Homo sapiens: one gene and its partner. The protein of the gene in region 1 interacts with the protein of each later gene in a pairwise test. Each region holds a gene or a part of one and is shown in the gene's direction. Other genes may lie near its edges.

Region 1 (3,747 bases):
TGGGAACATTTGAGAGAGACAGTGGGCTGCCTACATTGTGTTTTCCACAGGAGGATGAATGTGCCTAATAGCTTGGGAGAAACTAGGATTTTCTTTGCCTGGTGTAGCACTGGTGTTTTCTTTACCCACGAATAAAGTAGATGGAGATAGTCCTGGAAGACAGTAGACAGGGCGGCTGTCAGAATAGAGGAAACCAGCATGGAGTGTAATGAGTTAAATAAGGCTTATTTAACTGTCAGGTTAAATAAGGCTTGTATTTTACCTGTCAGGTTGGTGGCCCAGAAGATTTTGACATTCCCAGATTATTGATCTTTTGGCTTTGCTGTCCAGTTTAGATGGTTTTTGCTAAAGTAGCTTTGACCATCAAAGATATAGACATGTATACGTGCATTTCCTATGCTTGTTTTTTTTATGTAGAATGTTTATTTTTCTGGATAAAGGAAACATTGTTGGCCACCCAGTAGGCAAAATGTTTGTGGATAATGATTTGTAATGAATGGATTTGCTATGAAAAGATATCTTGGATGCTTGATACTATAATTATTAAATGAGACTTCAGGGAGTTTGAGCATCATGATTCTGTTTGGAAATATTTGGCCCATGGGACTTTGACAGTTGTCTCACTGTTTACAGCATTTATAGGGTAGTCCGAACACTGATTAAGATGATCCATAAGGGCTTTTAAGTGACAAAAAAATTGTTTTAGTTTTTTTTAATTAATTTTTTTTTGAGATGGAGTCTTGCTCTGTCACCCAGACTGGAGTGCAGTGGCACTATCTCGGCTCACTGCAACCTCTGCCTCCCAGATACAAGCAGTTCTTCTGCCTCAGCCTCCCCAGTAGCTGGGATTATAGGCATCCCCCTCCACACCCAGCTAATTTTTGTATTTTCAGTAGAGATGGGATTTCGCCAGGCTGGTCTCAAACTCCTGACCTCAGGTGATCCACCCACCTCAGCCTCCCAAAGTCCTGGGATTACAGGCATGAGCCACCACGCCTGGCCTTAAATTGTTTTAGTTTTAGCTTTAAAGCCATCTCATATATGGCCCCCAATGTATTCCATTTACAGCTCCGTTTTATGTTTACTGTTTCATAGTCAACTCAAGCAGGATTGTTTTTTGTACACGCTAGTGTGTTAGTCTGATGTGTAAGCTTTTCTTGAATTTTCTAAAGAATGACACACAAAAAAATGAAAGTCAAGAGTAGTCAGCAGATTCCCCAGCTTTTCCTTCTCTTTTTAATTTTTTCTATATTCGCAAAAGGTTCTTTCTTGTATGTGTTTCATTCTCCTGGAAGTTTTTAAAATCTACTTAAAATGTAGGTGAAAATTTTAATGCTTCTTTTCAGGGTTGCTACTGTGGTGTTGCTGTTTTCATGCTGTGTTATATATTAAACAGCTGCTTTTTTACTTTGTTAAGGACCTGATGGAATCATAAACAGATTACTGTCACTAGGATTACAGAAAACAAGTAAAGTCTTGGTAGTATGCACTCAACAATGGTGCTCAGATTTTTAAAGAATTATTTAAAGAAATGATGGTGAAATTTTCATCAGAACCTGAAATTTTAGCTGAAATAAGATGCAAGTCTGTAAATAAAGTATTGTTTCAAGACAGCTGGCTACCACCATCGCTCTGGAGGAGGAGCTTCCTTGCCTGAAGCCCAAACACTAAGTTTGGGCTCCTCCATAGCCCAGCTGTCAGCATTGGGCAGGTGCACAATCTCAGCAGGAGAACCTGCTTCTGAGGCCAGAGCAAGGTGGCCTGTTAGCTGACAGCCAGCCTGGTAGCAAGGCCCCAGCCAGTTCTTAGGTAGGTAATCTGTACCCAGCGTGGGCTCTCTGTCTGCTCTGCAGCTGTCAATTAACAGGACAACTCTTGTCTGGACTTCAAAAACACACCCCTGGTTCTGGAAATGGGCCTAGAAACAGAAATAGCCTCTCCTACTGGGTGGGCACCTGACATCTGACATGGAGGAGAGGGGCGTGGGCAGGCCAAGTGTCAGCATCTCCTTGGTTCAAGGACAACCCAGGACCTGTGCTAAGCATGAAACCCCTGCTCAATAGTGTCACTACAACAAAGAGGACTGTCATGTCTAGAAGCTCTTCCTATCCTTTTTTGACAATTACCACTAGCAATCAATGGATTCTGATGTTTCTGCTTACAGTGACTGAATAAGCATAATTATTCTATTGAAGGAAATTTTTTCTTGCCATCCTCATGTTAGTAAACATAATTCAGACTCCCAATGTTTTTACCTTTTCAAGTGTAGCAAGAATGTTTTTTCTGTTAACAGAGATCATCAACTTGCAATTACATTAAGCCTTTATGATGGTTAATGATAGTTCATTTGTTGTGCCTGGGCTGAATGATAAGTGTAGAACTCTCCACGTGCAACTTGCTGAATCTCCAAATCTGATTGCTACCTTTTGAGATTCAGAATTACTGTTAGGAAGGTGCATTAGTTTGGAGGGGGTAGTTTGAGAATTCTGCTGGCTCTTTAAAATTATTTTTTTAAGAGATCATCTTGGAACAAAAAGTGGCAAGAGTTATAGTTGGATAATCTGTTTGACAAGTGACTGGTTATTTCAGTGTATTTTGCCATAACCTGCTTAAAAATGTAAGGAGTAAAACACACAGCGTTTTTTGAGAGTAAGTAAAATCCCATATTTTAGACTTAACATAAAAATATGTAGATAAGCTATTGACAATTTGCAGACTGAGAAAGTTTCAGAGGTGATAGATTCTTTTTTTTTTTTTTTTTTTTTTTTTTTGAGATGGAGTTTCGCTCTTGTCCAGGCTGGAGTACAATGGCATGATCTTGGCTCATGGCTCACTGCAACCTCCATCTCCCGGATTTAACTGATTCTCCTGCCTCAACCTCCCAAGTAGCTGGGATTACAGGCTCCTGCCACCACGCCCGGCAAATTTTTTTTTTGTATTTTTAGTAGAGATGGGGTTTTGCCATGTTGGCCAGGCTGGTCTCGAACTCCTGACCTCAGGTGATCCGCCCGCCTCAGCCTCCCAAAGTGCTGGGATTACAGGTGTGAGCCACCGTGCCCAGCCAGAGGTGATAGATTCAAAACATGTGTTAGGTACTCAGCAGTCCTAATTTTCTTACAGAGACTGACAGCCAGAAGGAGCATTGTAGTAGATGGGCTACTACTTTACTTTTGAAGAATTTTGTATTAAAATGTAATTTGATGCACCCACTGATGCTTTTAGTGGGGATGTTTTGCTATAGTGGAAGGAAACTCAGACTGAGTGTCAGGACCCGGATTCTACTTGGTTTTGCCATTACCCACCCACAGGAGCATTTGACCATTCTGATCCTCAGTTTCCTTACCTGTAAAATGGGGGAGGGAGGAGCTGTAGATCTTCAGCAGAAGCCCTGTTGCAGTTTAGCGTTCCTCTTCTCAGACATTTTCTTGGGTGGAAGGGACAAATGGGGAGCTCTTCAATAAGCTGCAACATAAATTTTTGGGGGACATAAATCTTCCTTGTGGGGAAATCTTTACTATTTATCTTAAATAGTTTAGTGACTGCTTAAGCAGTATTCTTTGGGGACTCTTGGTTTTTAACTGAAGGCAGACCTGCATGCAGGGCCTTTGGCTGCTGTGCTCCTGGGCTGGGTGCTGTGTCTTGAGCCCCTGTGCAATGCCTGGCTCAGAGTAGGAGCTCAACAGATGCCTGTTGACTGAATAATAAACAGGTATCGCAGGAGCTTTTGTTATGTGCCATGTGTGGAAT
Region 2 (3,747 bases), on another chromosome or scaffold:
GGTAGCAGGTGCTGTTTTCCCATACCCCTTCGGGTGGGGACCAGCTGAGGCTGGCCTCTCTATGTTATCTGGTACCCTGGGTCAGGGTGAGACAGAAGGACCTGTCTAGTGATGCTGGGGTTTGGTCCAAGGCTTTCAGAAACCCCTCCTCTCTTTGCGGCCCAGGATATACCCCCTACAGAACTACATTTTGGGGAGAAATGGTTCCACAAGAAGGTGGAGAAGAGGACGAGTGCCGAGAAGTTGCTGCAGGAATACTGCATGGAGACGGGGGGCAAGGATGGCACCTTCCTGGTTCGGGAGAGCGAGACCTTCCCCAATGACTACACCCTGTCCTTCTGGTAATGCCCCCGACCCAGGGAACGCCTACCTTCTTCTCCATGCCAACCGATGAGGCAGGGTGGCGAGTGGTTCTAGCTCAGGCAGGAATTGGGCAGGCTGGGACCTGAATCCCAGGCTTCATTTGTCTAGCTCTTCTAGGCCGGGACAAGGGTGAGGTGGGTATGACTCACTTCGGCACTGTAACCCAGATTAATGAGATTTCAGGGCAATCTTTTAAAAAATCAAAAGTAATGCAAAAAAGTCTGTGATGAACAAAATATGAACATTTTAAACAAAGACAAGATCTGACCCTACTCTTAGATGATGTGGTCTCACTCACTTTCCCCGATCCCAGCCCTGGAGTGGGTCATGTGGCTCTGGATGATTCAGCCAACCTTCTAGCATCTCTGTCTCCTCCATAAAACGAGGACTCTAGGGCTGTCCTTTTGAAGCCGTCATAGGCTGTGATGAGCTTGTGCATTCATTCATCCACCCACTTATCCATGTCTCAGTGCATTAAAAGATACTTCTTGAGGGCGTGCCCTGTGCTAGACACAGTACTTATGCCAGACAGACAATGTCTTTGTCCTCCTGGACACTAGCGTCTTTTGAAGGAGATGGGCAATGAAAAAGCAGTCACTCAAATGATTTGCAAGTATAGTTGTGATGAGTGCAATGAAACAAGGCAACATAAAGGGACATCCCTCCCTTTATTGGGGGGGTTTAATGTGAGTTGGGGGGATTTGTGAAAGTCTGTGAGGAAGGCTCTGATGCCCTGACGTGGGGAATGGTTAGGAAAACCTTCCTGAAAGAAGATGAGACCTGAAAGAGGGAAATTATAATTCTGTCACTTAAAAAAAAATTGTGATAGGGTCTTGCTCTGTTGCCTAGGCTGTAGTACAATGGAGCAGTCTCAGTCACTGCAGCCTCAAACTCCTGGGCTCAAGCAACCCTCCTATCTCAGCCATTTAAGTAGCTGGGACTACAGGCACATGCCACGACACCTGAATAACTTTTAAATTTTTTGTAGAGCTGGAGTCTCACTACGTTGCCCAGGCTGGTTTTGAACTCAGCTCAAGCAATCCTCTGGCTTCGGCCTCCTGAAGTGCTAGGATTACAGCTGTAAGCCATTGCACCTGGCTGAAAATTAGAATACTAATAACACGCAAATAATCCTGGACACCTAAATGATGCTTACCATGTGCTGGGCAGTATTCGAGACACCTTGTGTGTGTGGTCTCGTTTACTCTTCAGGATGCCTCTTTGAGGTGGATACTGTTATCATTCCTGTCAGACCGCTGGGGTAGTAATACAGTGTGGCTCAGACAGCACGGGTGACCTGCTCCAGGACACTTGGTTCATATGTGGCAGAGCTGGGATTTGAATCCAGGCATCCTGGCTCTAGAGAAGCAGTTATATATATAAAAGGGGGATGGGGTGGGGTGGGGTGGGGGAAGTAGGTAGAATGTTCTGGAATCCAGGCTGAGGGTCTAGCCTATACTAAGGCCCTGCATCTGGTTTTGTTGTTGTTGTTGTTGAGATGGAGTCTCGCTCTGTCGCCCAGGCTGGAGTGCAGTGGCGTGATCTCGGCTCACTGCAACCTTCGTCTCCCAGGTACAAGTGATTCTCTTGCCTCAGCCTCCCAAGTAGCTGGGATTACAGGCATGCACCACCATGCCCAGCTAATTTTTGTATTTTTAGTAGAGACGAGATTTCACTGTATTGGCCAGGCTGGTCTGGAACTCCTAATCTCAGGTGATCCACCCGTCTCGGCCTCCCAAAGTGCTGGGATTACAGGCATGAGCCACTGCGCCCAGCCTCCTGTGTCTGTTCTAGGAGCAGAGGGAAGGTTGTGTGGCCACATGTAATGTCCCCGCCTCTGAGGCCCTGGCTGCCGCAATGGCCTGGCCTGCGTTCTCCCAGCACTGATGGCGTCCTCTCCCCGCAGGCGGTCAGGCCGGGTCCAGCACTGCCGGATCCGCTCCACCATGGAGGGCGGGACCCTGAAATACTACTTGACTGACAACCTCACCTTCAGCAGCATCTATGCCCTCATCCAGCACTACCGCGAGACGCACCTGCGCTGCGCCGAGTTCGAGCTGCGGCTCACGGACCCTGTGCCCAACCCCAACCCCCACGAGTCCAAGCCGTACGTGTCTGAGGGTGGAGCAGGAGGCAGGCGGTGGTCGGGTTAGCTCCACCAGGCAGAGAAGCTGGCCTGGTGGTTCAGCCGGGCCAGTCCCCCAGGACACCCTCTCCCCAGCCCACCGGCATCTCAAAATTGCCGAGGTGGCCAGTTTCCAAATTCCTGGCACCATGACCTGTGTCCTTTTCTCTTTTCTTTCTTTCCTCCCCTTTTCTCTTTTCCCTTTCTTCTACTTTGTCTTCATAGCCCCGAGACTTTGGGCTTTGATTTTCAGAGGGTCATTTTGGCCTGGGGATATTCTCTTACCTTTCAGAGCTCCTTCCTGTTTGTTCTGAAAATGAACAAGGAAACAATGATTATAAGAGTCTCCCGCTGATTTTTTTTATCTAGTGAAATGAGTATCAAGGTAGGTCTTGCGAAGGGTCAACAAATTCTGGGAATAAAGAAAAAACAATTTTTAGGCAGAAAGCTGCAAAAATGTCCATTTCCGAGGAGGCCGTATTACTTATAGCAACTTTTTTTTTCACTTTTTCTGTCACATTTTCCTATGGATTGCCTCTTAAAACTTGCTATTTCTTATCTTAAGAAATAACCCGAAAACAACCCAAAACCTTGTGAAACTCCTGCTGTGATCTCCGTCTTCGATTTTCTGAGACACGTGGCAATAACTGTGCCTCCCTGGGAGCCTGGCTTTTCAGGTTTGGGCTGCTTGGGTGGATGAAGATGAATCAATTTTTTGAGACAAGGTGTTGCTCTGTTGCCCAGGCTGGAGTGCAGTGGAACAATCACGTCTCGCAGCAGCCTCGAGCTCCTGGGCTCAAGTGATCCTCCCACCTCAGCCTCCTATCTGGGACTGCAGGTGTGTGCCACTGTGCCCAGCTAATTAATTAATTAATTAATTAATTAATTTTGAGACCGGGTCTCGCTCTGTCTCCCAGGCTGGAGTGCAATGGCACGATCTCAGCTCACTGCAACCTCTGCCTCCCAGGTTCAAGAGATTCTTGTGCCTCAGCCTCCTGAGTAGCTGGTATTATAGGCGCACGCCACTGGGCCTGGCTAATTTTTGTATTTCCTTTTTTTTTTTTTTTTTTTTTTTTTGGGACAGAGTCACATTCTGTTGCCTAGGCTAGAGTGCAGTGGCATGATCTCGGCTCACTGCAACCTTTGCCTCCTGGGTTCAAGTGATTCTCCTGCCTCAGCCTCCTGAGTAGCTGGGACTACAGGCGCCTGCCACCATGCCTGGCTAATTTTTTGTATTTTTAGTAGAGACAGGGTTTCAC

Evidence for each region. The genes of interacting proteins can lie anywhere in the genome.
Region 2: the proteins of GAB1 (region 1) and PLCG2 interact in binary tests that used the Homo sapiens proteins (3 or more experiments, as listed by UniProt).

What each region holds. Positions count from the first base shown.
Region 1 is NC_000004.12:143,339,800-143,343,546, forward strand, and holds part of GAB1 (GRB2-associated-binding protein 1), read left to right. Parts: intron 1-3,660; exon of another isoform or gene 3,661-3,736; intron 3,737-3,747. UniProt on the Homo sapiens protein: Adapter protein that plays a role in intracellular signaling cascades triggered by activated receptor-type kinases. Plays a role in FGFR1 signaling. Probably involved in signaling by the epidermal growth factor receptor (EGFR) and the insulin receptor (INSR).
Region 2 is NC_000016.10:81,908,251-81,911,997, forward strand, and holds part of PLCG2 (1-phosphatidylinositol 4,5-bisphosphate phosphodiesterase gamma-2), read left to right. Parts: intron 1-165; coding exon 166-341; intron 342-2,269; coding exon 2,270-2,470; intron 2,471-3,747. UniProt on the Homo sapiens protein: The production of the second messenger molecules diacylglycerol (DAG) and inositol 1,4,5-trisphosphate (IP3) is mediated by activated phosphatidylinositol-specific phospholipase C enzymes. It is a crucial enzyme in transmembrane signaling.